Homo sapiens: one gene and its partners. The protein of the gene in region 4 interacts with the protein of the main gene of each other region in a pairwise test. Each region holds a gene or a part of one and is shown on either strand. Other genes may lie near its edges.

Region 1 (7,023 bases), on a different chromosome or scaffold from region 4:
GGGGTCTTACTTTGTTTCCCAGGCTAGGAGAATTCTATTAACAAAATACAACATAAAAATCACATAGCTAGCCCGGGCATGATGGCTCACGCCTGTAATCCCAGCACTTTGGGAGGCCAAGGCGGGTGGATCACCTGAGGTCAGGAGTTCGAGACCAGCCTGGCCAACGTGGCGAAACCCTGTCTCTACTAAAAATAAAAAAATTAGCCAGGCCTGGTGGCGGGTGCCTGTAATCCCAGCTACTTAGGAGGGTGAGGCAGGAGAATCGCTTGAACCTGGGAGGCGGAGGTTGCAGTGAGCGGAGATTGTGCCACTGCACTCCAGCCTGGGCAACAAGAGCGAAACTCCATCTTAAAAAAGAAAAAAAAAAATCACATAGCTAAAAAGAAATATTCATGTCAGTGGATACTAAAAAAGAACAAATAACAATATATTGAGTTTATTGGTAAATGAAGTCCCACACCCACACCACACATATAGTAATGTAATCTTGTGAATATAGTTAACCAAAAAGCAAAATATGAAATAAAGTGTCATTAATTTGAAATTCCACGTAGGAATTAATTAATTCAGACAAAGCACAGTACTTATAAACAAATGTCTCAGTGGAAATTAATTTAATTTCCATTCGGGCGCAATGGCTCACGCTTGTAATCCCAGCATTTTGGGAGGCAGGCAGATCACTTGAGATCAGGAGTTTGAGAACAGCCTGGTCAACATGGTGAAACTCCGTCTCTACTAAAAATACAAAATTTAGCTGGGTTTCCAGAAGGTTTTTGATTTACTTTGCCCAGATCCATCAGAGGAATAACTATCTATAGTAGCTATAGATAGTAATAGTAAATGAGCATTGACTTCAACTTAAAGTCACCAGCTGCAATAGCCCCTAACAAGAAAGCCTGTCCTTTGAAGCTTTTTTTTCTTTTTCTTTTGGATGGAGTGCAGTGGTACAATCACAGCTCACTACAGCCTTGACATCCCAGACTCAAGTGATCCTCCCACCTCAGCCTTCCAAGTAGCTGGGACCACAGGTACACACTAAAATGCCCATCTAATTTTTAAATTTTTCGTAGAGACAGGTTCTTGCTATGTTGCCCAGGCTGGTCTTGAACTCCTGTGCTCAAGCAATCCTCCCACTTTGGTCTCCCAAAGTGCTGGGATTACACATGTGAGTCACTGTGACCAGCTCCTTTGAAGCCAGGTAATGACTTCTCCTTTCTACCTATGAAAGTCTGAGATGGTATCTTCTTCCAACAGAAGGCTGTTTCATCTGCACTGAAAATATGTTCTTTAGTGTACCCACTTTCATTTTCTGTAGCTTCTGCATCAGTACTTGCTGTTTCACTTTGGACTTTTGTTATGGAGAAGGTTTCTTTCCTTAAATCTCATGAACCAACCTCTGCTTTTTTTTTTTTTTTTTTTTTTAAGATGGTCTTGCTCTGTCACCCACCCAGGCTGGAGTGTGGTGGCACAATCACAGCTCCATTGCAGCCTCGACCTCTCTGGGCTCAAGCCAGCCTTCCTTCTCAGCCTCCCAAGCAGCTGGGACTATAGGTGTGCGCCACCACATCCGGCTAAATTTTTTTGTATTTTGTAGAGACAGCATTTCACCATGTTGCCCAGGTTGGTCTCAAACTCCTGGGTTCAACCAGTCCACCCACCTCGGCCTCCCAAAGTGCTGGGATTACAGGCGTGAGCCATTGCACCGAGCCAACATTTGATACTCTAAACTTCTTCTGCAGCTTCCTCACCTCTCAGCCTTCACAGAATTGAACAGAGTTAGGGCCTTGTTCTGGATTAGGCTTTAGTTTAAAGGAATGTTGTGGCTGATTTGATCTTCTACTCATACCACTCAAACTTTCTCCATATCAGCTTATCACTGGAATAGCACTTTTAATTTCCATTTATTTATTTGTTTGTTTGTTTGATGGAGTTTCGCTCTTGTTGCCCAAGGTGGAGTGCAATGGTGTGTTCTTGGTGCACTGCAACCTCCGCCTCCCGGGTTCAAGCAATTCTCCTGCCTCAGCCTCCCAAAGAGCTGGAATTACAGGTGTGCGCCACCATGCCCGGCTAATTTTGTATTTTTAGTAGAGATGGGGTTTCACCATGTTGGTCAGGCTGGTCTTGAATTCCTGACCTCATGTGATCCACCCGCCTCAGTCTCCCAAAAGTGCTGGGATTACAAGCGTGAGCCACCGCGCCTAACCCCATTTTTTTTCTTCATATTCACAATTTGGCATGACTTCACATGCCTTCCTCACTAAGCTTAATCATTTCTAGCTTTTGATTTAAAATGAGAGACTTGCAACTTTTTCTTTCACTTGAACACTTAAAGGCCATTGTTGGGTTATTAATTGGCCTGAGAAGGCAAGACTGAATGGCTAGTTGGTGGAAGTCAAAACACAGGCATGTATTGATTAAGTTTGCTATCTTCAATGGGTGCGGTTTGTGGCATCCCACAATTACAATAGTAACAGCAAAGATCACTGATCACAGATCAGTGTTAACAGACATAATGATGAAAAGGTTTTAAAAACTGCCAGAATTGGCCGGGCGCAGTGGCTGTAATCCCAGCACTCTGGGAGGCCGAGGGAGGCAGGTCATGAGGTCAGGAGATCAAGACCATCCTGGCTAACATGGTAAAACCCCATCTCTACTAAAACTACAAAAAAATTAGCCGGGTGTGGTGGCGGGCCCCTGTAAGTCCCAGCTACTCGGGAGGCTGAGGCAGGAGAATGGTGTGAACCCAGGAGGCTGAGCTTGCAGTGAGCCTAGATCACGCCACTGCACTCCAGCCTGGGTGACAGAGCGAGCCTCCGTCTCAAAATAAATAAATAATAAAAATAAAAACTGCCAGAATTACCAACATGTGACACAGAGACACAAAGTGAGCACATGCTGTTAGAAATGGTGTCAACAGACTTGCTCAACAAAAGCTTGTCACAAACCTTCAATTTGTTAAAAAAAAAAAAAAATGCAGTCCCTGGGCTGGGCGCAGTGGCTCACACCCGTAATCCCAGCACTATGGGAAGCCAAGGCAGGTGGATCATTTGAGGTCAGGAGTTCAGGACCAGCCTGGCAAACACGGCGAAACCCATCTCTAATAAAAATACAAAAATTAGCTGGGCGTGGTGGCACGCACCTGTAATCCCAGCTACTAGGGAGGCTGAGGCAGGAGAGTTGCTTGAACCCGGGATGTGGAGGTTGCAGTGAGCCAAGATCATGCCACTGCACTTCTGTCTGGGCAACAGAGCAAGACTCCGTCTCAAAAAAAAAAAAAAAAAATTGCATTACCTGGGCTGGGCATAGTGGCTCACACCTGTAATCCCAGCACTCTGGAAGGCCAAGGTGGGCAGATCACTTGAGGTCAGGAGTTCAGGACCAGCATGGCCAACATGGCAAAACCCTGTCTCTACTGAAAATACAAAAGTTAGCTGGGTGTGGTAGGGCACACCTGTCATCCCAGCTACTAGGGAGGCTAAGGCAGAAGAATTGCTTGAAGCCAGGGGGCAGAGGTTTCAGTGAGCCGAGATAATGCCACTGGACTCTAGCCTAGGTGACAGAGTGTGACTCCATCTCAAAAAAACAAACAAACAAAAAAGCAGTATCTGCAAGTGCAGTAAAACACAGTATATTTTATTGAATATTACTATAAAACAAGGAAAAGAAAATTGCAATAAGTTCAGATAGTGAGATTAATGATATAGCGGTGCCTCAGTGGCTAAACCATGGTTTATGATTTAAAAAAATTTATCCTAAGTTGACCACTGTAGAAGAAAAAAAGAACTTCATTCCCACACTTTGCCTCTGATCATGTGTATAGTCTGTGGCTCCTTATTGTTTTTTGTTTGTGATTTTTTGAGATGGAGTTTCGCTCATTCCCCAGGCTGGAGTGCAATGGCGTGATCTTGGCTTACCACAACCTCCGTCTCCTAGGTTCAAGTGATTCTCCTGACTCGGCCTCCCAAGTGAGTAGCTGGGATTACAGGCGTGCACCACCACGCTTGGCTAATTTTGTCTTTTACTAGACACGGGGTTTCCCCGTGTTGGCCAGGCTGGTCTCGAACTCCTGACCTCAGGTGATCTGCACACCTAGGCCTTCCAAAGTGCCGGCATTACAGGTGTGAGCCACCGTGCCCGGCCCCATGTTTTTAACAATCTTACCACAGTAGGTACTACGTCTCTAACCATCCGTGCTGAGCTGCTTTGGGTTGCCTTGCTCTGCCACTAAGGGTTAGCATCACCTAGCTTGCTGGGCCTTCCATCATTACATTGGATCATGGGCACTGGAGAATATTATAGGAGGAAAATACTTCCAATACACTACCAAATACAACTGTTTCTCCATATCCTTATCAGTAGAATGAGGTCAACTAGATTATGTTATTTTTTTGGTTATAACAGTCTGTGAATCTACAAGACAACAGGAAGTAATACCAAAGTGATGAAGAGTTGATTTACTGTATGTGATTTGTTTCAAAATACTCCAGGAATTAAAAAAAAAAAAAAGTGAAGAGTATAGAGGAAAATAATTGTCAAAATATTAATAACTGTTGAAACTGGGTACCTGGGGCTTATTATAGTGTTTGTGGTATGTTTAAATTTTTTTTTTTTCTGAGATGGAGTCTTCCTCTTGTCACCCAGGTTGGAGTGCAATGGTGTGATCTCGGCTCACTGCAACCTCCGCCTCCTGGGTTCAAGCGATTCTCCTGCCTCAGCCTCCCCAGTAGCAGGGATTACAGGCGCCCACCACCACGCCCAGCAAATTTTTGTATTAGTAGAGATGGGGTTTCGCTATGTCATCCAGGCTGGTGTTGAACTCCTGACCTCGTGATCCTCCCGCCTCGGCCTCCCAAAGTGCTGGGATTACAGGCGTGAGTCACTGTACCCAGCCAGAATTGGGATATATCTTTAAAAAGAAAAGAGGCTGGGCGCAGTGGCTCACGCCTGTAATCCCAACACTTTGGGAGGCTGAGGTGGGAGGATCACGAAGTCAGGAGATTAAGACCATCCTGGCCAACATGGTGAAACCCCGTCTCTACTAAAATACATAAAATTAGCCAGATGTGGTGGCATGCACCTGTAGTCCCAGTTACTCGGGAGGCTGAGGCAGGGGAATCACTTGAACCCGGGAGGCGGAGTTTGCAGTGAGCCAAGATCCTGCCACTGCACTTCAGCCTGGGCTACAGAGCAAGACTCCATCTCAAAAAAATAAAAAATAAAATAAAATAATTGAAAAGAAAGGCTGAGTGCAGTGGCTCATGCTTGTAATGCCAGCACTTTGGGAAGCAAAGGTGGGCAGATCACTTGAGTTCAGGAGTTCAAAACCAGCCTGGGCAACATGTTGAAACCCTATCTCTACAACAAATTAGCTGGGCATGGTGGTGCATGCCTTATAGTCCTAGCTACTTGGGAGGCTGAGGTGAAAGGATGGCTTGAGCCTGGGAGGCGGAGGTTGTTCTCCATCCTGGGTAAAAGAGCCAGACTCCATCTCAAAAAATAAATAAATAGAAAAAAGTTTCTTATAAAGATCCTTACCAAAATATTTATGGATGGAATGATGTAATTTCAGGTATCTGCTTCAAAACATTGTGGAGGATAGATATTTTGTTTTGTTTTAGAGATGAAGTCTCGCTATGTTGCTCATGATGGTCTTGAACTCCTGGGTTCAAGTGATCCTCCCACCTTGGCCTCCAAAAGTGTTGGGATTACAGGCGTGAGCCAGCATGATAAGCCAACTATGATTTTAGATGAAACAAGATTGGCCAAGAGTTGATAAGTGCTCTAGTTTAGTGACAGGTAGACAGAGGTTCATTATATTCTTCTCTCGGGTTTGAATTTGCCATAACAATTAGAAAAAAATGTACTTCACTTATAATACAAACAAAATTCCATTTAAATATGCTGTTGAGCACAACAAAAGCTCAGGGTAAAAAAGCTATTTCTAAGTGTCAACATACTATAATAATCCTTTTTAAAATTAGTTACAATAAATCCTCTACCAGTAAGAGAACAATAAAATGTAGACGGAAGTAACCTTGTATCTGTCTACTTTATGACTTTGAATCTAAGAGGTTCATGCCAATTGTAGAATGTTTAAATAAATGTCGGAGGGAGTATATTTTAGGAGTATTCAAATATGACAGATTGAGAGGGATCAATTTATTTCACATGCCTCATTAAGAGTAAAGTTAAGGCCTGGTGCGGTGGCTCACACCTGTAATCCCAGCACTTTGGGAGGCTGAGGCAGGTGGATCACAAGGTCAGAAGTTCGAGACCAGCATGGCCAACATGGTGAAACCCCGTCTCTACTAAAAATATAAAAATACAAAAATTAGCCAGGCATAGTGGCGTGCGCCTGGAATCCCAGCTACTCGGGAGGCTGAGGTAGGAGAATAGCTTGAACCCGGGAGGCGGAGGTTGCAGCGAGCCAAGATCCCGCCACTGTGCTCCAGCCTGGGTCAGAGCAAGACTCCATCTCAAAAAAAAAAAAAAAAAAAAAAAAAAAAGAATAAAAAGAACCCGAGTCTGCTGTCTCTAAAATTTATGCTCTTTTAGCTGCATCATTAATCATCCTCTTAATTCATTCTCTGACCCCATCTAGGTAATGAACCTACACTTAGAAAAAAATCAAGTTGTCTTGAGCTGTGCCATTTCATAACCCTCTTCGTAAGTCCCATATAGCTCATCTTACTCCACAAATACAGAAACACATGGGGCTTTCCCTCTAGTTTTTTTTTTTTTTTTTTTTCAGACGGAGTCTCGATCTGTCGTCCAGGCTGGAGTGTAGTGGTGCGATCTTGGCTCACTGCAACCTCTGCTTCCCAGGTTCAAGCCATTCTCCTGCCTCAGCCTCCCAAGTAGCTGGGACTATAGGCGCTTGCCACCTCGCCCCCCTAATTTTTGTACTTTTAGTAGAGACGTGGTTTCACCATACTGGCCAGGCTGGTCCCGAACTCCCGACCTTGTGATCTGCCTGCCTTGGCCTCCCAAAGTGCTGGGATTATAGGTGTAAGCCACTGC
Region 2 (7,023 bases), on a different chromosome or scaffold from region 4:
GTGCCCAACAGACCCACCTGCGGACCCTCCGCCCCAGGCTGGGGACAGCAGCCACCTCTCAGGCTGCTACGGACAAGAGCTGAGAGGACAGAGCGGGCCGGATGGTACCCAGCAGGCCTACCTTGGAGAGGCGGTGAGGAAGAAGCCATCGAAGAGGCTGCTGCAGAAGTCCTCAAGGGCAAATTCGTCGGCCAGCAGCGCAAGGTTGCCCGTGAGCAGGTGGAGGAAGATGTCGCCAAAGGCCAAGTCGCCAAAGGTCTCCACTGCAGACACAGCAGGCATCAGCCCAGTGCCACTCACCCTGCCCACCCCAGAGGGCACCCTTGTCCTCAAAGACCTCAGAACCTACTTCTGGGGGTGCTCACATGAGAGTTCTCAGTTGTTCTGAGATGAGAAGCACAGGGTCTCAGCAGGTGAAGAGGGGGGTGGGAAGTGGACAGAGGCAGGCAGGGGGTGGGACCTGTGGCAGGGAAGCAGAGCTGCAGCCCAGGGACAGGAGGGTGGAGGGAGGGGGAGACAGCCCAGGGACAGGAGGAGGGTGGAGGGAGGGGGAGACAGCCCGGGGACAGGAGGAGGGTGGAGGAAGAAGGAGACAGAAAAACGAGGTGCTCCTCCAGTCCCAAAAGGCCTTGCCCAGCAGCCGAGCCCAGGAGAAACAAGCCTAACAAATACAGGGCCGGCGCCAGCTGCAGAGAGTTCTCCCTGACTGCCAGCTACACTGAACCACAGGAAAGAGAACGAAACTCTTCCACATTCTTTTCTGAAGCCAGACACCAAAACACAACAAAGACAGCATTCGTGCCCACAGACGCCTCACGTGCGACCACAGCACAGAAGCCACGGTGTTGGCAGACATTTGCCAAGAGCCAGCACAACGCCCCAAACGGGGCCCCTGCAGGGAGGGAGGGCGGCCGCCTGCAGACTGATGCCTGAAGGAGCTGTGGCCAGGCCACATGGAGGTGACGTGTGCGGACAGGTTGAGGATGGCCTTCCTAGTATCCCGGATGGGGCCTTTATGAGGACAACCCAGCTGGCGCCACCTGCGCCCAGAGTGACAGAAACATTTCCAGGAGACCCAGGCCCCCGAGGTGCCTGCCTGCCACATCTCACAGGGCCTTGGCCGGCCACATGGCCAGGTGGCCACGGGACACGTGGCAGGCACACAGTCCCGACCAGGGGATCCAGCAGCAAGGCCCCACTGGGCAAATGCCCTGATTCCTGCAACTCCGGGGAACCCAAGACTGCGAGACAGGAGAGGGGACAGCAGGCGCATCCCAACCCTGACGGGACCGTCCACACAGCAGGCAGGAGACACCTGGAGAAGCGCAGCCACTGTCAGGCAGTCAGTCGGCAGAGGAGCGGCAGTGAACCTGGCTCAGATGTGACAGTGGCCCGTGGTCCGTGGTCACTGGTTTTTATTTTTTTTGAGAAGAGTCTCACTCTGTTAGCCAGGCTGGAGTGCAGCGGTGCAATCTCAGCTCACTGCAACCTCCACCTCCCGGGTTCAAGCGATCCTTCTGCCTCAGCCTCCCTCAGCTGGGATTACACGCGTGCGCCACCGCGCCGGGCTAATTTTTCTATTTTTAGTAGAGATGGGGTTTCGCCACATTGGCCAGGCTGGTCTGGAACTCCTGACCTCAGGTGATCCGCCCGCCTCGGCCTCCCAAAGCGCTGGGATTACAAGGTGAGCCACCATGCCTGGCCAGTTTTTTAAAGGCATTTAAAGACAGTCTTATTTTTTATTTGTTTTTTTTGAGACGGAGTCTCGCTCTGTCACCCAGGCTGGAGTGCAGTGGTGCAATCTCGGCTCACTGCAACCTCTGCCTCCTGGGTTCAAGCGATTCTCCTGCCTCACCCTCCCGAGTAGCTGGGACTACAGGCATGCGTCACACACGCGGCTAATTTCTGTATTTTTAATAGAGATGGGATTCCACCATGTTGGCCAGGCTGGTCTGGAACTCCTGACCTCAGGTGATCCACCCGCCTTGGCCTCCCAAAGTGCTAGGATTACAGGCATGAGCCACCAAGCCCGGCTCCCCGCCCTTTTTTTTTTTTTTTTTTTTGAGACGGAGTCTGGCTTTGTCGCCCAGGCTGGAGGGCAGTGCCGTGATCTCGATTCACTGCAACCTCTGCCTCCCAGGTTCAAGCGATTCTCCTGTAAACGCATCCTTCTTTTGTAGAGATGCCTACGTCTGCAGCCTGCATGCTGTGATGTCTCAGATTTACACCCAGACATCGTGCTGAGGGACAGGCGGCCACACGCAGACCCCACGTGGACCCCGGGGAGGTTGGAGATGGTGCTGGGTCCTCACCGTACCATGCTCTTGACTTCGTATTCTTTCACAAATTCCCACCACAAAATGTTAAAAAATAAACAGGAGAGAATTCTAAAAATCAACATCCATTCTTACTAGAACCCGCTAAAAACTTAAGAACACGCGTGCTCTCCCCAAATGTGACTGAAAATGCACATCCCACCCCGTGGGGCAGCCACGTACTCCGAGAAGCTGCACTCCTGGTTCCCAGCCTGTTTCTAGCCACAATCAAATGAGAGAAAGAAACAGAAGCGCACGGAAGGCCTCCCAGGTGAGTCTGTCATTGTGCGAACTCCACAGTGACTGACACAAATCCAGAAGGTGCCACCCACTGCACACTGGGCTGGGCCATGGCCTCATGCCCCTGAGCTAGACACCTGCACAGCACATGGCTGTACTGAGTACTGAAGGCTGCTGGGACACAATGGCAACTGTGTATCTAAATAGAGAAAGTGGAGTAAAAATACAGTATTGTCAGCTTATGTGACCGCGTGGTCGTATATGTGGTCCACGGTAGACAGAATGTTATGTGACACGTGACTGTACTGCAGTGGGCAGGCCAAGGCAAATTAAAGTTATTTATAACTATGTTCCCGGAAGTCTCAAAAAATAAACAAACCGGCTCTGCCCGGCGGCCGGCAGCACGATGTCCCAATGCCCTCAAGAGCCTCCCTGAGCCTCCAGAAGGAGCGGCAGTGTTGGCACCCGCAGAAGCCCAGGAGGTCATGTCTGCCTGCGCTGTCTAATGCCACTGTCTGTGGTCATTCGTTCCAGCAACAACAGGAAACCCAGGCCCAGGCAACCCAAGCTCAGTGAGAGGATGGCTGGGGACAGGTTAATACCCACAGGTAACTTCCTCCACAAAGAAAGCTGGAAAACGCATGCACGCGCCATCCTCAAACACACCAGCCACCGAGAAACACAATAGGCACGTGCTGTGGTGTGGACGTGTCCCCAAGTTCACCATCGGAAACCTGATCCCCAACGCAACACTGCTGAGGTCGTGAGGGCTCCGTCCTCACCAAAGCGTTCTCGCTGTTAGCACAGGAGTGGCTCCTGATAAAAGGGTAAGTGTGGCCCCTTCTCTGTCTCCGTCTGTCTGTGTCTCATCTCTAGCTCTGTCTCTCATCTGTCTCTGTCCTGTGTCTCTCATCTGTCTGTCTCCATGTCTCTCCTGTCTCTGTCTCTCTTACCTGTCTCTCATCTCTCTGTGTCTCATCTCTGTCTCTGTGTCTCTCATCTTTGTCTCTCATCTTGGTCTGTGTGTCTCTGTCTCTCATCTCTGTCTGTGTCTGTCTGTCTCCCCTGCCCGTGCTCTCTTGCCCTCTGCCTTCCACCATGGGATGACACAGCAAAAAGCCCCAGCCAGATGCAGGCCCCTTGACCTCGGACTTCCCATCCCAGCCCGCAGAACTGGGAGAAGTCCCTGCTCTTTGTTTTTTTGAGACGGAGTCTCGCTCTGTCGCCTGGGCTGGAGTGCAATAGTGCAATCTCCACTCACTGCAACCTCCACCTCCCAGGTTCAAGGGATTCTCCTGCTTCAGCCTCCCAAGTAGCTGAGATTACAGGCACCCACCACCATGCCCAACCAATTTTTGTATTTTTTTAGTAGAGACAGGGTTTCACCATGTTGGCCAGACTGGTCTCGAACTCCTGACCTCGTGATCCGCCCGCCTCAGCCTCCCAAAGCACTGGGATTACAGGCCTGAGCCACCGTGCCCGGCCGTCCCTGCCCTTTCTACACTACTCAGTCTCAAGTCTCTGTTAGAGCAGCATAACGTGGACTAAGACAGCAAACCCCAGACAAGGCCTGAGTCAGCAAGGAAGAGCCCAGGGTCTGTGTCACAGTGGGTACCGCAAGGCTAAAGAGGCCCCATCTCCCATGGGACCCACAGCAGGCTAAAGAGGCCCCATCTCCCAGGGGACCTGCAGCTCTACTCTTGAAGGTGCCCATTTGGACCCTTCCTCTTCTTCCTGGCTTGCAACAACCCCTCCCCCGTCAAGGCCCCCAGGAGGAAGTGGGCCTGTCACCACCTGGGGTGGGGCACTGGGGCAGGGGATCTCTCTCCCTCCCCTTTGCTCCATTCTCTGAGCACCTGAGGGGTCCCAAGCCCCTCGCCAGTTAGGATGAAATAAAGACAGCTCTTACATCACCTTTTTGTGGGAAAGCACAAAGTTGAACTCCCTCTCCCTTTCCTAGTAAAATAAACTACAAACAAAAGTAAAAGTGAAAACGAGGCTGGGAGTGGTGGCTCACACCTGTCATCCCAACACTTTGGGAGGCCGAGGCGGGCGGATCATGAAGTCAGGAGTTCGAGACCAGCCCAACCAACATGGAGAAACCCCGTCTCTACTAAAAATACAAAAATTAGCCTGGCACGGTGGCACGCGCCTGTAATCCCAGCTACTCAGGAGGGTGAGGCACGAGAAATCACTTGAACCTAGGAGGCAGAGGCTGCAGTGAGCTGAGGTTGCACCACTGCACTCCAGCCTGGGCGACAGAGCAAGACTCCATCTCAAAAAAAAAAAAAAAAAAAAGGTGAAAACAAAGCTAGCAAAGTTGGAGGTGGGCTGGGGAGACAAGGCAGCTCCTGGGGGCCCTGGGGCCCGCACCCTGGGCAGGACTGCATACGGCAGCTGCCGCAGGGAAGACACAGCCAGGCACCGCCCGTCAGGACTTACCCAGCCCGGGCAGCAGGCGGAGGAGCGCGTTCTTGTTCCTCTGCTTGGTGATGTGCAGGACGTAGTACAGCCCCACCTCGCAGGCCATGCGCTGCTCCTGCAGAAACCTGCGCCCGGGGCGCCATCAGCCCCACCTCAGCCCCACCTCAGCCCCACCTCAGCCCCACACCGACCCCTGCCCAGCCCTGAGGCAGCCCCCTGGGCAACAGTGCCATCCCTGCGCCACGGCCACCCCTGCACCATGGCCCTACAGCCCGTACTTAGTGAAGCTTTCGGGAAGTGTGTTTGGATATGAGACTGGGGCTTTCTCCTCAGCCGGAAGTTTCTGATCCACATTGAAAGTGTAGTCATCCACCAGGAAGGACATGAGCATCGGGAGGAACCTGGTGATGAGCTCTACCTCCTACGAGGAGGGGAGGCCATGAGCGGGCGCGGGCCCGGGCCCTGCCCCACCCCACCCTGACGTGACACACACCCTGCCCCTGGCCCTCCCACTCCCCCAGATACCTCACCGACCCTCCCTCCTCTCCAGGTCCCCAGGTCCCTCTTCCCACCTCCCGAGTCCCCCACCCAGGCCATCTCCTCAAACCCCCTTCTAGGTCTGGACCCACATGGAGTAGTCACCACCTGTGGCCAGCCATGGTCCATGGAGACACCCCCAGAACAAGCCACGGTCCACGGAGACACCCCAGAACCAGCCACGGGCCATGGAGATACCCCAGAACCAGCCAGGGTCCACGGAGACACCCCAGAACCTCCCTGGTGGGCATTTTCCCAAAAGGAAGGTGGGCAGCTCCAGGAAGGAAGCTTTGGGACCAAAGGGGCCTCCACAATCACCTTGCTAGCGCCTCCCCCTCCACCCCACTTCCAGCCCACAACCCCTCGTAGGAAACTGGCAGCCCCCACAGGAGGCTCGTTACCATCTTGGGCTCCTTGAAGACCTGGCTGTCGATCATGTCCCAGGCTCCCTGGCCCAGCGCCAGCAGCCGGAGCAGCAGCAGGAGGTCGGGGCTGTCCTGTAGGGAGGACGGGCTCAGCGCCTCTCCCAGGCAGCTGTGTCCTGGCCATGGAGCTCCTCTGACCCTACTCGTTACTCAGCAGGATCTCTGGTGCCCATGGCCAGGACCACACGACTGCGATCACCAGCCCCACACACGGGGTGAAACGCAGTCTCACAGCGGGGAAGCACACGCCTCTACCTGGGCCACTGCAGTCCACATCCCCGACCACCAGAGCAGCCAGCAGGGCGGCCACAGGGCCCCAACAGCTGCCTCCACCTGGCCGCTGCTGTCCACACCCTGACCACCCAGAGCAGCCAGCGGAGTGGCCGCATGGCCCCGACAGCTGCTGGCCAAGCCCACACTCACCCTGGGCAGTGTCTCCTGGCCGACCAGCTCCTGCAGGTGCCTGACTGTGCTCAGTGCCAGCGTGTTGATGGCGAAGGGGTCACACAGGATCATGGACAGGTCCCTGGAAGGAGGCCGCCCTGGCATTAATGCGACGCCTGTTGCCCCTCCCTTCAGCGGCACAGTCCTCAGGAGGGGTGGCCTAGGCTGAATTCAGGACTGGCAGCGGGTGCCCATCACATGCTGGGTTTCTTACAAAAAGCTTAAGGATGGCCGAGCGCGGCGGCTCAGCCTGTCATCCCAGCACTTTGGCAGGCCGGGCGCGGCGGCTCAGCCTGTCATCCCAGCACTTTGGCAGGCCGAGGCGGATGGATCACCAGGTCAGGAGACTGAGACCAGCCTGGCTAACAAAGTGAAACCCTGTCTCTACCAAAAATACAAAAAATTAGCCGGGCGTGGTGGTGGTCGCCTGTGGTCCCAGCTACTCGGGAGGCTGAGGCAGGAGAATCACTTGAACCCGGGAGGCAGAGCTTGCAGTGAGCCAGGATCGCGTCACTGCACTCCAGCCTGGGCAAGAGAGCGAGACTCTGTCTCAAAAAAAAAAAAAAAAAAAGCTTAAGGTTTGCAATTTGTCCTTAACCTATTCAAAGATTTTTCAAATTAAAAAGTTAAAAAAACAA
Region 3 (6,961 bases), on a different chromosome or scaffold from region 4:
TGCTTCAAGGGAGTTTTTGAGGATGCAATATGGAAGAGTAGTGAAAAGTATGAAATACTACGTAGGTATAACTGAAACCTAAATCCTCACCACTGCAAGCATTAAGGAGAAACCCCTAAAATTATTCTGAGTGTAAACACAGCAAAAGGCGCATGGACCTTAACCAACATGTATGACACCAAATGAAATTAAGTTACCTGATGTAGGGTCCAGTGAACTGACTCTGTTTTTAGATAAACAGGAGCTACTATTAGGGTTGCCTGATTCTGTGTTATCTTTGTTTTTGAGTAAAGCTAAGGCATCTTAGGGTTGCCTGATTCTGTGTTGTGTTATCTTTGTTTTTGAGCAAAGCTAAGGCATCTTTTTCACTTTTGAGGTCCACTTTCTTTTAAGAATTCAAGCCTAAAACTCTAAAGAAGTTTATCTTTATTTTATTCAACTTTCAATCTGTTCAGTTACATAGTTGTTATGACCTGGTAAGCCTATCTGTGTTTGCTCAGTTGATTTGCTTCATTTTGAACTACATAACAGGCTACTTCCAATGAAAACATATACTACAATGTAAAATCTGTCATGATTTGGAGAGACCTGTGCACTGGTTTTATTAAGCACTCTTGTGCTCCCTCTGCTGCCATGAAGAAAATGTTCATGTTCAAGACCCCAGTACATTCCTCAGCAGAGCATTCTTTTTTGGCAATAATGATGCAGATGTGTGCACTTACAGTGCAGTAGTATTTATCCAAAGCATATAACATAATAATTTTTCATTGAAAAGCACAAATTAATAAGGGCTGTACTTACTAAAAAGGAGCAAAAAAGAAATAAATAGAGGAATTAACTTCTGCACTTGTGCCCAAATTTATTTAGGTTGATCCCTGTGGTATAGACCAGTGTTCTTCACATGATAATGTGTTTAGAAATCACCCAGGGGCCTGGTTCAAAGGCAGATTCTGATTTGGTATGTCTGGGGTAGAACCCTTGACTCTGAATGTCTAAAAAGCTCCCAAGTGCTGCTGTGGCGACTTTGAAAACTACACTTTAAGTAAGGGTGTAATATGTAATTATATAATATATACTTGCTGGCCCATTTAACACCTTCAAGAGTAGATACCACCAAAACAGTAAAATAGATATGTGATTACAATTATTTTTCATGGTATTTAAGCAATCTATGACACAGGATACGAGTCAAGCTCATCAGGCCTTATTTATCGATTTCCTGTAATTTCAAAGGTTGACTTATGCTTTTACAAACATAACACCAGCCTTATGAGTAGGACTATAGTACTATATATTTGTCTACTAGCTTCTTGGAAGCTCTGCCCTTTTTCATTGAGTTTTTATTTGCACGAGAAAGTCTTGTTTCTAAAGAATCAGTGCCTGTTATTTGTGATTGTACACTTAATATTTTGCCATCTGAAAACAAAATATTTCAGTACTAAAGGTAATGAGACAGTTTCATGAGTATGGTGTTTATGTTGGATCTTGCAGGAAGAAATAGTTACAGATTTTGGTGGCAGTTTATGGCTTTAAACTTAATGGCTAAGAAAGTAAATGACACATTTCTTATTAATTGTTTTTACCATTTGGGTAATATACATATTTAGCTTCCTTGAGAGAACATTTAAATTAATTGACTAACTGTAATCTGAATTATGTGTTTTAATTTAAGGTTGTTAAAATCACGTAAATTAACTGCTTGTGCCAACGTAAAATTACAATATTAGCTTTTTTTTAACTGAAAATTATCTAAATGTAAGATGTCTAAAAATAGAGTGGAGGTGGATTGGACAGTTTGCAGATTATGAGTTGGAATAAAAACATCGCAGTTAAGCCAAAAACATGGCAACCAATATTTTCTGTTATAAAAATATTTGAGATGAATTTAGTTTTTATGAAAGCTGTCTGAAACTGAAATGAATAGCAGAAGCTTTCTGTTTATTCACAGTCCAGTAATAATAATACCTGCAGCACAAAGCATACGTCTTTTCTATATAAAGCCAACAAGCTTCTGCTCCTTTCTGAAGTCGTCTTTGCCAAGCAGGGTGTTGGGGGCGGGGGTGAGGATAGGGGTGAGGGGACATTTTACCCGGTTATGCTCTTACGTACTAACCTTCACCTTGACAAAGCTTGTCAACGAAAACAAAACCAGTCAGAGCCTTTTCAGGAAACTGATGTTAACTGTCCACTAGAGGCTGTAATGAGACCAACAATGTCACTTTAGACCAACCCGAGGTTTAAACCGTAACAATAATCGATTTTTAAATGGAAAAAAAAAAGTTGTAGAAATGAGTAAGAGTGAACACTAGTAGTTATACTTAAATAGCCACATATATGTGCATGGTATTTCAAAAATGTGAGAAAAAAATATTTCCGGGGCTCTGCACCTTCCTCGCTCGTATGTTTATTTTTATTTATGAAGCACGTAGGCTCTTGCAGGCCAGAGTTGTGTAAAAACTGACACTTTTTTTTTGGTCATCCTGTGCCCTGCCTCAGTTGGTGACTAACCGTTAGGTCATAAGTAAACTCAGCCAAAAGATCTCTCAAATACAGCTTACAGTCAAGATTGGTGGCTTTCAGAAAGAAACTTACGCGAAAGGATCATGTTTCCAGACACTTAGTTCTAAGCACCTGAAGAAGGTCAAATGTCGCCCGACACCTACCGGCCTTCCAGAATCATCTGCAACAAGAACGCCGCACTGAGCGCCCTTAGTCTGGAGGCGCCTCCTAGTCCTCCAGGTGCCACACCTGTTGGCAAGGTGCACCCATCCGAAGAAGATTCCTTCGCGTGGAGGTCACACCTGGCGGCGAGACAGGCGGAGGGGCGGGGTGGTGGGAGTCGGAGACCGCACTGAAACCCTGAGTCCAGATTTAAGTTCCTCGTCGATTCTCGAGAACTGCCATTTGATGCTCCGGTTGCTTTCTCTGTCTCCTACACTGGTTACCTCATTTCCGATTAAATTAATGATCCGAAATTAGCTGCGAGAGGAGTGCGCGGGTCTCCTTTCCAGGCTAGAGCGGAGTAGTTCCATATCAAAGCCGATTTCCGGACCTGCGTGCGAAGAGAGAAAGAGGGCAGGGTCGGGCGGTCGCCAGCGTTCGCCGGCAGGAAAGGTGAGGGTACCTGTGCAGTCGGGGGACCCCTTGAAACTTTCCGGAGTTGCACGCAGAGGCAATCCCCGCGGCCCCCAGGCCTGGGTTCCGGAACGCCGAAGCGACGCCGGTTTGTGGCTTAACGTGCAGCTGATGATCAGAGTGAGCCCTCTCAGATGCTGCTCCGAGCGCCTGGGACCAAGGACACGTCGGGATTAGAATGGGCCGACCTCCCCTCCCCGCTGGGGTGTTGCATCGGCTCCCAGCTGAAGCCTGACAGCCCTTGGGGGAGTCCCCCAGGTTGCCTGAGTAGCGCCCCGTTGTCGTTCAGTCCCCTCCAACTAGGTGCAGGGACCCAGGGAGGCGCGCGAGGACCGACCCGTCACCGCTCAAATTACCTCATCGCCCAGCTCCCCGCCCCCTTCCCAAACCTGGAAGGAACCTTGCCCTCCGGTCCGCGTCTCCCCTCCCCCGCACCCCATCCCGAGCCACTCTTTGGGAAAGGTGCCCGCCTCCCCGGGCGGCGCGCAGCGAAGGGTTAAGGGCGCGGGCCGGCCGCCGCGCGGTGCGCTCGCCGTGCTCTGTGCGGCTCGCCGGGCCGCCCGCCAGAGGGTGCCCCCCACCCCCATGAAGTCGGATCCTTGAGCTGCGGCGGCGGCAGCCAACTGCTCCATATTTGGCTTCTATTACACATTTACATACTGGAGCGAGCGAGCGAGCGAGCGCGAGAGAGCGCGAGGGAGGGAGGGAGGGCGGGCGGGCGGAGGGAGGAGGGAGGGGAGGGGAGCGGGAGGAGGGGGAGGAGGAGGAGGAGGAGGAGGAGGAGAGAGCAGAGTATACCGCAGACATCATTTCTACTACAGTGGCGGAGCCGTACAGGACCTGTTTCACTGCAGGGGGATCCAAAACAAGCCCCGTGGAGCAGCAGCCAGAGCAACAGCAGCCGCAAGACATTGTTTCTCTCCCTCTGCCCCCCCTTCCCCACGCAACCCCAGATCCATTTACACTTTACAGTAAGTGACTATTTTTTTTTCCTCCTCCGATTCTTTCCCCCCTCCCCCATTCCCTTCTCCCCTTATTTAGATTAAAATCCCTCCTCCCCCGATCTCCCGAGAGGGGCAAAAGCAACAACCAGCAAACAAACCCAAAACCCCAATCGGCTGCACGGAAAACAGCTGGAAGAGGAGCGAAGGAAATCGACGCGTCGTGTTCTGTGTGTGTGCGTGTGTGTGTGTGTGTGTGTGTATGTGTGTACATACAACCGTCCCCGGCTCCAGGCTCCCGGGCCGACACCCCCACTCTGGGCGCAGGGGCGGCCGGCGGGGGGGCTGTCAGGGGCTGGGTGGGCGCCCGCCGGGCTAGGGGGCGCGCCCGGGCGGGGGGCGCGGGCGGGGAGAGCGGCGGCGGCGCCCCGCTCCCCCGGCTGCTGGTCCGGTCGCAAGTGCGGAGAGCCATGTCCTCCTCCCTCCGGGTGGCGCAGGGGGGAGGCGGCGGCTGGGGTTGGGGGGTGGTCCCTTTCCCGGCCGCCCTCTTCCCATTCCTCCTCCCCGGAGAGGGCGGTGAGAGAGAGGGGGTCTCACGGAGGGCTGGACTTCTCCGCGGGTGGTCGCCCGGCCTCGGCGCCCTGGGGCGGGGGTCTCCCCTCGGAGGGCCGGCCTCGCCGGGTGTGCGGCTGCGGGCGGGGAAGGGACTGCTCCTGCAGCCGGGACGGGACTTTGCGCGCGGCCGGGTGCCGGGCGGGGGGCGCAGAGGGGTGGCCTCGGGGACCGCGCGGGGGTAGCGGGTGTGCGGGTGCCTGGAGCGCGGCTGGAGTGGCGGTGACGGCCCTGGCCGCCGCCGCCACCGCCGCCCTGTTGGTGCGGCCGCTTCCTGATCATGTGCAGCGGCAGCCGCCGCCCGGAGCCGGGAGCCCGCGAGCGCCCCAGTCCGGGCCGGCGCCCCCGCCAGCACCCGCGGCAGGAGACGAGGAGCCGCGGCAGGCGCTGCCCTGAGCCGGGAGTGAACGGCTGCGCGGCTGCTGGGAGGGTGAATGAAGCCAGGAGGAGGGGAAGGAGGAGGAGGCGGCGGCCGCCGCGGAGGAGGCGCTGCGGGGATTGGGATGCGCCCTGGAGCCCCACTGCTCGTTCACTCTGGGCCGGGCCGGAGACTCTGCCACTCCCGGGGGCGCCGCCGCCTCCTCCTACGTGGTTCCAGTGCTGCGCGCAGGCCGGTCCCGCAGGGGGCAGGGAAGGGGGCCGGACGGGCGGAGCGAGAGGTGAGGCGGTGTCGGAGCGCGGCGTGAGTGTGAGTGAGTGTGTGAGTGACTGTGTGTGTGTATTTGTGCGCGCGCGCGCCGGGCGGGGGGCGAGGGCCGTCGCGACGCGGAGGGGGCCCTTCCTTGGCTACTTGGCTGACTCTGCAGCGCCCCGACCCCTCTTCAGCCCCCCGCCTTCAGGCTGCCTTCTTAAACTCCGTGGCTTGTGCTTTCATTTTGTTTCAGACCACGTAGGGGGCTGACTGAAAGGGATGAAACAATTCAGGTTTTCTAGGGAGATTGAGCAAGAACCTTAGTGGGGGTGGAAGTAGGGTGGTGATCGAGACTCTGCCAGAAAACAAAACAAAACAAAAAAAAATCCGTTTCTAAGGACGGCGGGGATTCGGTTCGAGCCCGTGGCTGCTCTGTTTTGTTTTGCTTTCTTGGTATATAATCCTACAGATAAAAGGGTAATATAAATATTTGAGAAGAGGGAAATTGCTGAAGAGTAGTAAGGGCAAAAAAAAAAAAAAAAAAAAAAAAAAAACAGTCGGAAGAAGCTGGTTATATAATGCGCGATGTGGCTAACAAGAAAGGCAAGCTATTTTTATTTTGTTTACCGTATGCTGTGCAGTAGGGACTCCTCCAAACTGGTTCTGTCCCCGAAGAGATTCTTAGCTTCCCTGCGAGATCCACAGGATACAATTAGCAAAATTAGAAGACCCTATTACACCCACAGAATAAAAACTAATGCCTTACAGTGGCTTTCTCCCTGCACATCCTGTCGTGCATGCACGGGAATGTGTGTATGCAAATAAGTTCTCCTTTGGCAATCTAGTAGTCACATCTCAATGACATTTGTGTTTTATAATGCAGGCTGTTTTTAATATTTAAACATCATTGTTATATATTGCACACAGCAGTGGGTAGTTACTTGGTTATTTTTAGGCACAGCTAGTTACTTTTTCAACAGTGTTAGCTGAGACATTTCTGTTTGGGTTTTTTAGGAGGCTGCAGTTCCTAGAAGCCCCCCTTAAGCCCACCCTTCGGTTTATTTGATGGGTAAAGGTAGTTTGATACTTGAGCTTTTTTTGGAGTGAAGCTTATGTCTGAGGAAACCACCAGAGAGAAGAGAAAATCCTGCACAGGAACTCTTGGAAAGGGATTGCACCATAACGGCTAGCGCTGTGGCATTTAATCTCCTCTGATTGCCCTCTCACTGTGCATGCATCAGTCAATATTTTAGCAGCTCCGCAAATAAATGGACTTGAATGCCATCTTCTACATAAAGCAGAGGTTGAAGGGCTCCCCTGAACCTCCTGGCTGCCTGTCAGTGGTGTAGGTTTTCGGTGCACTTACTCCAGTCCTGATCACTCATGTAATTAGATCAGGCTGCCATGGCAACAGACAGTGTTCCTCGTCCATTCAGGTGGGTTTGTCTTGTGCCTGAACTACTCCAAGTGTTTTATGCACAGCATTTATGCTGCCCAAGCCAGACGAGAGACTCCACTATTTCAATTGCATCTTCTTTCAGTCATTTGGATGGGAGACACTGAATGAGGCTTCTAGCTACTCAACTTTTATAAAGGAGACCAACAAGCTGTTCTTCCTAGGTGCAGTATGTAAATGCATCTC
Region 4 (7,608 bases):
CCAGTGAGCAGCGACTCCAATCCCAGCAGAGAAACGCTCAGGCTCAATTCAAATGACAGGCAGGCACATTCACAGCAGAGCCACCTGTGATAGCTGCACAGTGAAGACAGCAAATGTCCACCTGCAGCAGGGTGGGTAAAGGGTGATGCATTCACTGCAGAAAGTCACCAGCAGTGTAGATCAGCCACTCCAGGCCCTCTGGGATCTGAAGAACTTTGCAGGCACAGGCCCCCTATAAATCCAGTAATAACCTGGGGCCTGAGTGATTTTCATTCACAGAGCCACCCTCCTCTTGGGGCTGAGACCCTGAGTGTTTTTTGCCCATAGAGTCATCCCCTTCTTGGTACTGAGAGGTCATGGTGGAGACTGAGGATCCCTCCAAGGGGTCTAGGGGTAGGAGCAGCTCTGTGAAGTGAGGGAATAACTGGGTGTCTGGCAAGAAGTCGGAGGCATCGGGGCTCTGAGGCCATAAGGGGGCTGGGGCTGGGAGTGATCCTGGGCCTGGGATTGGAGCTGGGACTGAGCCTGAGCCTGGGCCTGAGCCTGGGCCTAAAATCGGGGCTAGGCCTGGAAGTGAGCCAGGGCTTCGCATCCGGCCAGGACTTAAGATGGGACCTGGGCCTTGGAGTCTGCCTGGGCCTGGGATCTGGGCTGGGCTGGGAATCGGGCCTATAATTGGGCCTGGGCCTGAGATTGGGCCTGGGATTGGGCCTGGGATCAGGCCTGGGTTCGGGCCTGAGATTGGGCCTGGGATCGGGCCTGGGTTCGGGCCTGAGATTGGGCCTGGGATTGGGCCTGGGATCGGGCCTGGGTTTGGGCCTGAGATTGGGCCTGAGATTGGGCCTGGGATCGGGCCTGGGATCGGGACTGAGATTGGGCCTGGGATCGGGCCTGAGATTGGGCCTGGGATCGGGCCTGGGTTTGGGCCTGGGATCGGGCCTGGGTTTGGGCCTGAGAATGGGCCTGAGATTGGGCCTGGGATCGGGGCTGGGCCTGAAATTGGGCCTGGGATTGGGCCACGGAATGGGCCTGGGATCTGGACTGGGCCTGAAATTGGGCCTGGGATTGGGGCTGGGATCGGGCTTGGGATCTGAGCTGGGCCTGGAATTGGGCCTGGAATTGAGCCAGGGAGTGGGCCTGGGATCTGGGCTGGGCCTGGGATTGGGGCAGGGATCGGGCCAGGGCCTGGACTCAGGGCAGCTGGGATGCCCTTCTGGGCTCTGCACCCAGGGCCACCCCAGGCCTGGTGGAGGCTGCAGATCGTGGGTTCCGCCGCTGGAAGGATTCCCGAGGGGCCCCGCTGAGGTGCGGAGGCAGAGGCTGCAGGGACTAGGGGCGCAGCGCGGGCTCCTCGGCCTCTCTGCCCAGGGACGCGCTGGGGCTGCTGCTGGAGCCGCCGCTCCCGAGCTAGTTTGGCGCGGCGATTCTTGAACCACACCTGGGGGGCAGAGGGGACAGGGAGAAGGTGTGAAGGAGGGGCTCGCGCGGCCCAGTGAGCCTTTTGGGGTCGGGGCCAGCCTGAAGCCTCTCCCTGTGCTCAACAGCCCCCCATCCCCCACCCCACCAAAAGAGGGCCCCGGCTCCAAGGCCTGGAGAATGGAGGGAAGAGGGAGGGAAAAGTAGGGGGAGGAGGGTGGGGTGGGATGGGAGGAGCGGGGTCTGCCGCCCAGGTGCCCGGGGGGCCAGGGAGGGTTCGAGGGGAGGGACCGCGGGTTCTCACGGGTGCCTGAGGTCCGGGCACCGGGAGACCCCGTGGGGGACAGCCTGGGCCGATCATGTGGGCGAGTTTGGGCTAGCATAGAGTTGGAACAGGACTCAGGATGCAGCCCTGGTCTACACTGGCGGGACCCCTTGCGTGGCAGGGCGGGAGGTGGTCGGGCGGGCCAGGCCCCGGTGAGTGACAGCGGTGGGGAGGCTCCTTGGGGTGACTGGGGCGGGCAGGGTGGGGGTGGGGGTCAGACCTGCAGCTGTTGCTCCCTGAGGCTGAGCATCTCCGCCAGATTCAGTCGCTGGTCGTAGTTCGGGTACTGGTCCTTCTGAAAGTAAAATTCTAGCACTTTCTGCTGGCTTTCAGTGTAGACCGTGCGCTCCTGCCGCTGTCTCCTTGGAGGGTCCAGGGCCAGGGGAGGGCCTGGGGGTGGGAGGGAAACAGGTCACAGAAACCCCCAGGCAGCCCCCAGCCCCCCTAGGGACCCCGTCCCCTGCACCAGGCCAGGAGCCCAGGCAGTGTGGGCTGGGGCGGCACCGCGGATAGCAGCCTGGTATCCAGACCAGACCTTGCACCTCTCTGGGCCTCAGGGTCCACATCTAGGAAATAGGCGCGATAACAGCTCCTGGGAAGGCAGGCAGCGTAGGCGCCTCACCTCGGAGCAGACGGGGCTGCCTCAGGCCTGCTCAACCCTCCCCAGCTGCCCCGTCCCCTCCCATCCAAGGGTTATAGGGACCCTGACACTTGCAGGGGAGCCGCCACCTGCCCAGTCCTCTGCTCCACTCAACTGCATGGTTTAATTTCTTTCCTTCTTTCTTTTTCTTGGAGGGGATCTCGCTCTGTCACCCAGGCTGGAGTGCAGTGATGTGATCACGGCTCAAGTCAGCCTCCACTTCCTGGGCTCAAGGAACCCCCCGCCTTAGTCTCCCGAGTAGCTGGGACCACAGGTGTGCACCACGACCCCTGGGTAATTTTTGTATTTTTGCTAAAGACGGGTCTCCACTATGTTGGCTCGGCTGGTTTCAGAGTCCCGGGCTCAAGTGATCCTCCCACCTTGGCTTCCCAAAGAGCTGGGATCACAGGCGTGAGACGCTACACCCAGCTGCATGATTTTTCATTTCCCAGACACCACTAAGTTCTCCCCCGTCTGCAGGACAGGAAGCCGCCCGCACAGGCCCAGCCCTTCTCTGGCTGCCCAGATTTGCACTCTGCAGCCTCAGCCACAGGATCAGCCCAGACCCCTCACACCTCTGTCCCCGCTCACCTTGGAGATGACCAGGGTCTTGCATCCTGAGTCCTGATCTGTTCCCAAACACAAGTGTGTACTGACAAGGGCTTGGCTCTTAAATCACTTCTCTGCTGTGCCCACCCTGGCCCACCCTGCCGGGACCCTCCCTTTCCCACCCTGCCCTGCAGTCCCGCCCCCTGGAGGAGTTGAATGATGGATTAATCCTTCATCACTGATCAGGTACTGCCTGCTGAGCTGTGCTAGGAGCTGGAGAACCTCAGTGGACAACACAGCCTTGGTTTCACCCTCATGGGCCCTAGCCCAGGTGAGGTGGCATTCCATGCGGGTTTGGTTGGGGGAGTCAACATCGTGACCTGTGGTTGGGGTCCCCATCTCAGGAGAGGCACCGCCAGCCAGCCCCCAGGAGTCATCCTTGTTCCTTCCCAGGGCTGGGGCCCCGAGTGACCAATGCCGGTGAGTCTACCCACTCCTCCTGGCTCCTGGGCTGCCTGCCTTGTCCAGCCACTATCCCTCCTTCCTGGATGACCTTGCAACCTCCTCTTTGGTACCTCAAGGCCACTCTGGCCCCTACTATCCATTCCAAAAATTGCTCCCTAGGTGCCTATAGGTGTAAGCAGAGCTTAGTACACATTGGCCCTGCTGATAATGGTTTGGTTTCTGTAGTGGATTTGCCTATGGGGTGAAGTTCTGATAGGCATTCACATAGACCTCTGTTGGTTTCTCCTGGAGAGTAAATGACCTCAGTGCTGGTTTATTCCAGTTTATATACGGGGCTCGTGTGCTGGGTTCACATGAGCCCAGCCTCTCCAAGCTGCATAGACCTGTATCAGGAGGGGGCACAGGTCTGATGGACGTGCCCATGGACCGCTGCTGGTCTGCCCTTGTGAGTGAATGAACCTACTGCTGATGATACAGGGGACCCATGACCTTGGTCTACAGAGATCGGATCCCTCAGAGATGCGTCTTCTCTGTCAGACACCTGGCTGTCCTCATTTCCCCATGGCAGGACCCACGTGGGTTCAGGGATTAGAGAGATTGACAAGGCTCATGGTGCAGGGAACTAGAAATGACTCATGCAATCAATTTCAAAATTCAATAAAACGTAGACATTGTTACCACGGGCCTCGCTCATTGTTTTCACCTGCTACTTAGAGTTCTGCTGTAGAAAGCAGCATCCCCAGCAATGATTCCTCATCGCACACATTGTCCGGCTTCATCTACAGGACATGCTGGGAACACAGTAGTGACCACAGAGATTTTGCACCATGGCTATTTATTTGGTCAATAAAGACATAAACAGATGAACAAGCTCACTGGTACTATTTTGTGAAAATAGACATTTAAATATAAGCAAGTTCACGGCAGCATGATTCACTATCGCCCAAAAGGAGAAAATGCTGAAAACATCGATCCACTGATGCATGGATAAATAAAATGCTGCATGGCCAGGCGCGGTGGCTCACGCCTGTAATCCCAGCACTTTGGGAGGCTGAGGCAGGCAGATCACCTGAGGTCAGGAGTTTAAGACCAGCCTGGCCAACATGGCGAAACCCTGTCTACTAAAAATACAAAAATTAGCTGGGCGTGGTGGCCAGCACCTGAATTTCAGCTACTTGGGAGGCTGAGGCGGGGGAATTGGTTGAACCCGGGAGGCGGAGGCTACAGGGAGTGGAGATTGTGCCACTGTACTCCAGCCTGGGCAACAGAGTGAGACTCCATCTCAAAATAAATAAAAGTGGCTGGGCACGGTGGCTCACGCCTGTAATCCCAGCACTTTGGGAGGCTGAGGTGGACGAATCACTTGAGGTCAGGAGTTTGAGGCCAGCTTGGTCGACATGGTGAAAATCCGTCTCTACTAAAAATACAAAAAATTAGCCAAGCATGGTGGCGGGAGCCTGTAATCCCAGCTACTTGTTAGGCTGAGGTAGGAGAATCACTTGAACCCGGGAGGCAGAGGTTGCAGGGAGCTGAGATGGTGCCACTGAACTCCAGCCTGGGTGACAGAGGGAGACTCTGCCTCAAAAAACAAAACAACATCCCCCAAAAAAACCCACAAAAAATAGAAACCCAAAATGTCATATATTTACACAATGGGATATTACTCAACCATGAAAAGGAATAAAGCTCTGATACGTGCTACAACATGGATGAACCTTGCCAACATGATGCCGAGTGAAAGACGCCAGACTCAAAAGCACATATACGATTCTATTTATACAAAGTGTCCAGAATAGGCAAATCCATAGAGACAGAAAGCAGATTAGTGGTTGCTACGGGTTGGGGAGAAGGGAAAATTGGGACCAACTGGGAATAGCTATGGAGATAGCTATTGGGGACGGTGAAAAATGTTCTAAAATTGACTGTAGTGAAGGAGGCACAACTCTGCAAACAGACTAAAGACGATTTAATTTTTTTTTTTTGAGATGGCGTCTTGCCCTGTCACCCAGGCTGGAGTGCAGTAGTGGTGTGATCTCGGCTTGCTGCAACCTCCATCTCCCGGGTTCAAGTGATACTCCTGCCTCAGTCGCCCAAGTAGCTGGGATTACAGGCATGCACCACCACGCCCAGCTAACTTTTTGTATTTTTAGTAGAGAATGGGTTTCACCATGTTGGCCAGGCTGGCCTCGAATGCCTGACCTCAAGTGATCCACCCATCTCGGCCTCCCAAAGTGCTGGGATTACAGGTGTGAAACACCGCGCCCGGCCAAAACCATTTCATTTTGTACTTTATGATTATTCTTTTCTTTTTGTTTTGCCGTGTTGCCCAGTCTCGTCTCGAACTCCTGAGTTTAAACAACCAGCCCACCTTGCCTCCCAAAGTACTGATATTACAGGCGTGAACCAGCGTGCCCGGCCTGAATTGTATACTTTATTTAATTAAATTTATTTATGTATTTGTTTTGAGACAGAGTCTCTGTTGCCCAGGCTGCAGTGCAGTGGATTGATCTCAGCTCTGCCTCCTGGGTTCAAGTGATTCTCATGCCTCAGCCTCCTGAGTAGCTGGGATTACAGGTGTGTGTTACCACACCCAGTAAAAAATTTTTTCTATTTTTAGTAGAGATGGGGTTTCACCATGTTAGCCAGGCTAGTCTCGAACTCCTGGCCTCAAGTAATTCGCTCTCCTTAGCTTCTCAAAGTGCTGGGATTACAGGCATGAACCATGGCACCCAGCCCTGAATTGTATACTTTAAGTGGGTACTTTTATATTACGTGGATGACATATCAATAAAAAATATAAATTAATGCAAAACTCAGCATATTGCCCTGTGGATTGGCCAAGATCAAAGAGATGGATCAAGTGTAGACCCAGAGAATGTGGTTTTCTCTTGCCATTGATGAAGTGTAGGTTGGTAAAATATTTTTGGAGGTTTTTTTTTGAAATTGACTCTGTGACATCTATTAAAGGATGAAATGTGTATAGTACCCTTTGACTCAATGATTTTTTTTGAGACAGGGTCTTGCTCTGTTGCCCAGATTGGAGTGCAGTGGAGTCAATCGAAACTCACTGCAACCTCGAACTCTGGGGTTTAAGCGATCCTGCAACCTCAGCCTCCTGAGTAGGTGGGACTACAGGCAAGTACCACCATGTCCGGGTAATTTTCTTATTTTATTTTATTTTCTTTATTTGTTTTGAGATGGAATTTCACTCTTCTTGCCCAGGCTGGAGTGCAATGGCGCGATCTCAGCTCACTGCAACCTCCGCCTCCCAGGTTCAAGCAATTCTCCTGCCTCAGCCTCCTGAGTAGCTGGGATTACAGGCACCCACCATGATGTCTGGCTAATTTTTGTATTTTTAGTAGAGACGGGGTTTCACTGTGTTGTCCAGGCTGGTCTTGAACTCCTGACCTCAGGTGATCCACCCGCCTCAGCCTCCCAAAGTTCTGGGATTACAGGTGTGAGCCACCATGCCTGGCCAATTTTCTTATTTTATTTATTTATTTATTGAGACCGAGTCTCGATCTGTCACCCAGACTAAAGTGCAGTGGCTCTGCACTTTAATGCAGATATCGGCTCACTGCAACCTCTGCCTCCTGGGTTCAAGTGATTCTCCTGCCTTCCGAGTAGCTGGGACTACAGGCGCCTGCCACCACATCTGGCTAATTTTTAAATTTTTATTTAATTTTTATTTTATTTTTAGTAGAGATGGGGTTTCACCATGTTGGCCAGGCTGGTCTTGAACTCCTGACCTCAAGTGATCCGCGCACCTTGGCCTCCCAAAATGCTGGGATTACAGGTGTGAGCCACCGTGCCTGGCCTCAATGTTTTATTGTAAGAGACTTATCCTGGGAAAATACTTGCTCCGCTGTGAATAAGCGCAGATATCAGTGTTCAGTGTAACATTTCTTTGAAATATCAACTGAGTTAATTGGATTAATTCACGCCCACAAATTAGAAGATGATTAATTTGTGGCAGCCTCAGACTATGGAATGCTAATGAAAGTTTAAGAAAGGGATGAAGTGGTAACCAATTAGTAAGAAATGATGATCTTTAATGTATTTGTTGTTTTGTTTGCCTGGTGGATGTCTGCTTGCTGTTTGCTGAAATAAATGTGTCTTGAACACAGAGACTTTGTTGGGCTTTTTTTTCCCTCCCAAATCCCCATGTCTGTAATAGGAAAAGCTCAAAGGTGCTGAGTAATAATGTACTAAA

What was found.
Region 1: the proteins of TPRX1 (region 4) and OIP5 interact in binary tests that used the Homo sapiens proteins (3 or more experiments, as listed by UniProt).
Region 2: the proteins of TPRX1 (region 4) and NELFB interact in binary tests that used the Homo sapiens proteins (3 or more experiments, as listed by UniProt).
Region 3: the proteins of TPRX1 (region 4) and ATXN1 interact in binary tests that used the Homo sapiens proteins (3 or more experiments, as listed by UniProt).

What each region holds. Positions count from the first base shown.
Region 1 is NC_000015.10:41,322,583-41,329,605, forward strand, and holds part of OIP5 (protein Mis18-beta), read right to left. Parts: intron 1-7,023. UniProt on the Homo sapiens protein: Required for recruitment of CENPA to centromeres and normal chromosome segregation during mitosis.
Region 2 is NC_000009.12:137,265,321-137,272,343, reverse strand, and holds part of NELFB (negative elongation factor B), read right to left. Parts: intron 6,468-7,023; coding exon 6,365-6,467; intron 6,014-6,364; coding exon 5,918-6,013; intron 5,401-5,917; coding exon 5,258-5,400; intron 5,105-5,257; coding exon 4,998-5,104; intron 264-4,997; coding exon 122-263; intron 1-121. UniProt on the Homo sapiens protein: Essential component of the NELF complex, a complex that negatively regulates the elongation of transcription by RNA polymerase II.
Region 3 is NC_000006.12:16,758,443-16,765,403, reverse strand, and holds the start of ATXN1 (ataxin-1), read left to right. Parts: upstream 1-3,943; 5' UTR 3,944-4,106; intron 4,107-4,237; exon of another isoform or gene 4,238-4,266; intron 4,267-5,219; exon of another isoform or gene 5,220-5,347; intron 5,348-6,961. UniProt on the Homo sapiens protein: Chromatin-binding factor that repress Notch signaling in the absence of Notch intracellular domain by acting as a CBF1 corepressor. Binds to the HEY promoter and might assist, along with NCOR2, RBPJ-mediated repression. Binds RNA in vitro.
Region 4 is NC_000019.10:47,801,543-47,809,150, forward strand, and holds the start of TPRX1 (tetra-peptide repeat homeobox protein 1), read right to left. Parts: upstream 3,010-7,608; 5' UTR 2,998-3,009; coding exon 2,973-2,997; intron 2,132-2,972; coding exon 1,962-2,131; intron 1,439-1,961; coding exon 233-1,438; 3' UTR 1-232. UniProt on the Homo sapiens protein: Transcription factor expressed after fertilization required for zygotic genome activation (ZGA), a critical event in early embryonic development during which the developmental control passes from maternally provided mRNAs to the expression of the zygotic genome after fertilization.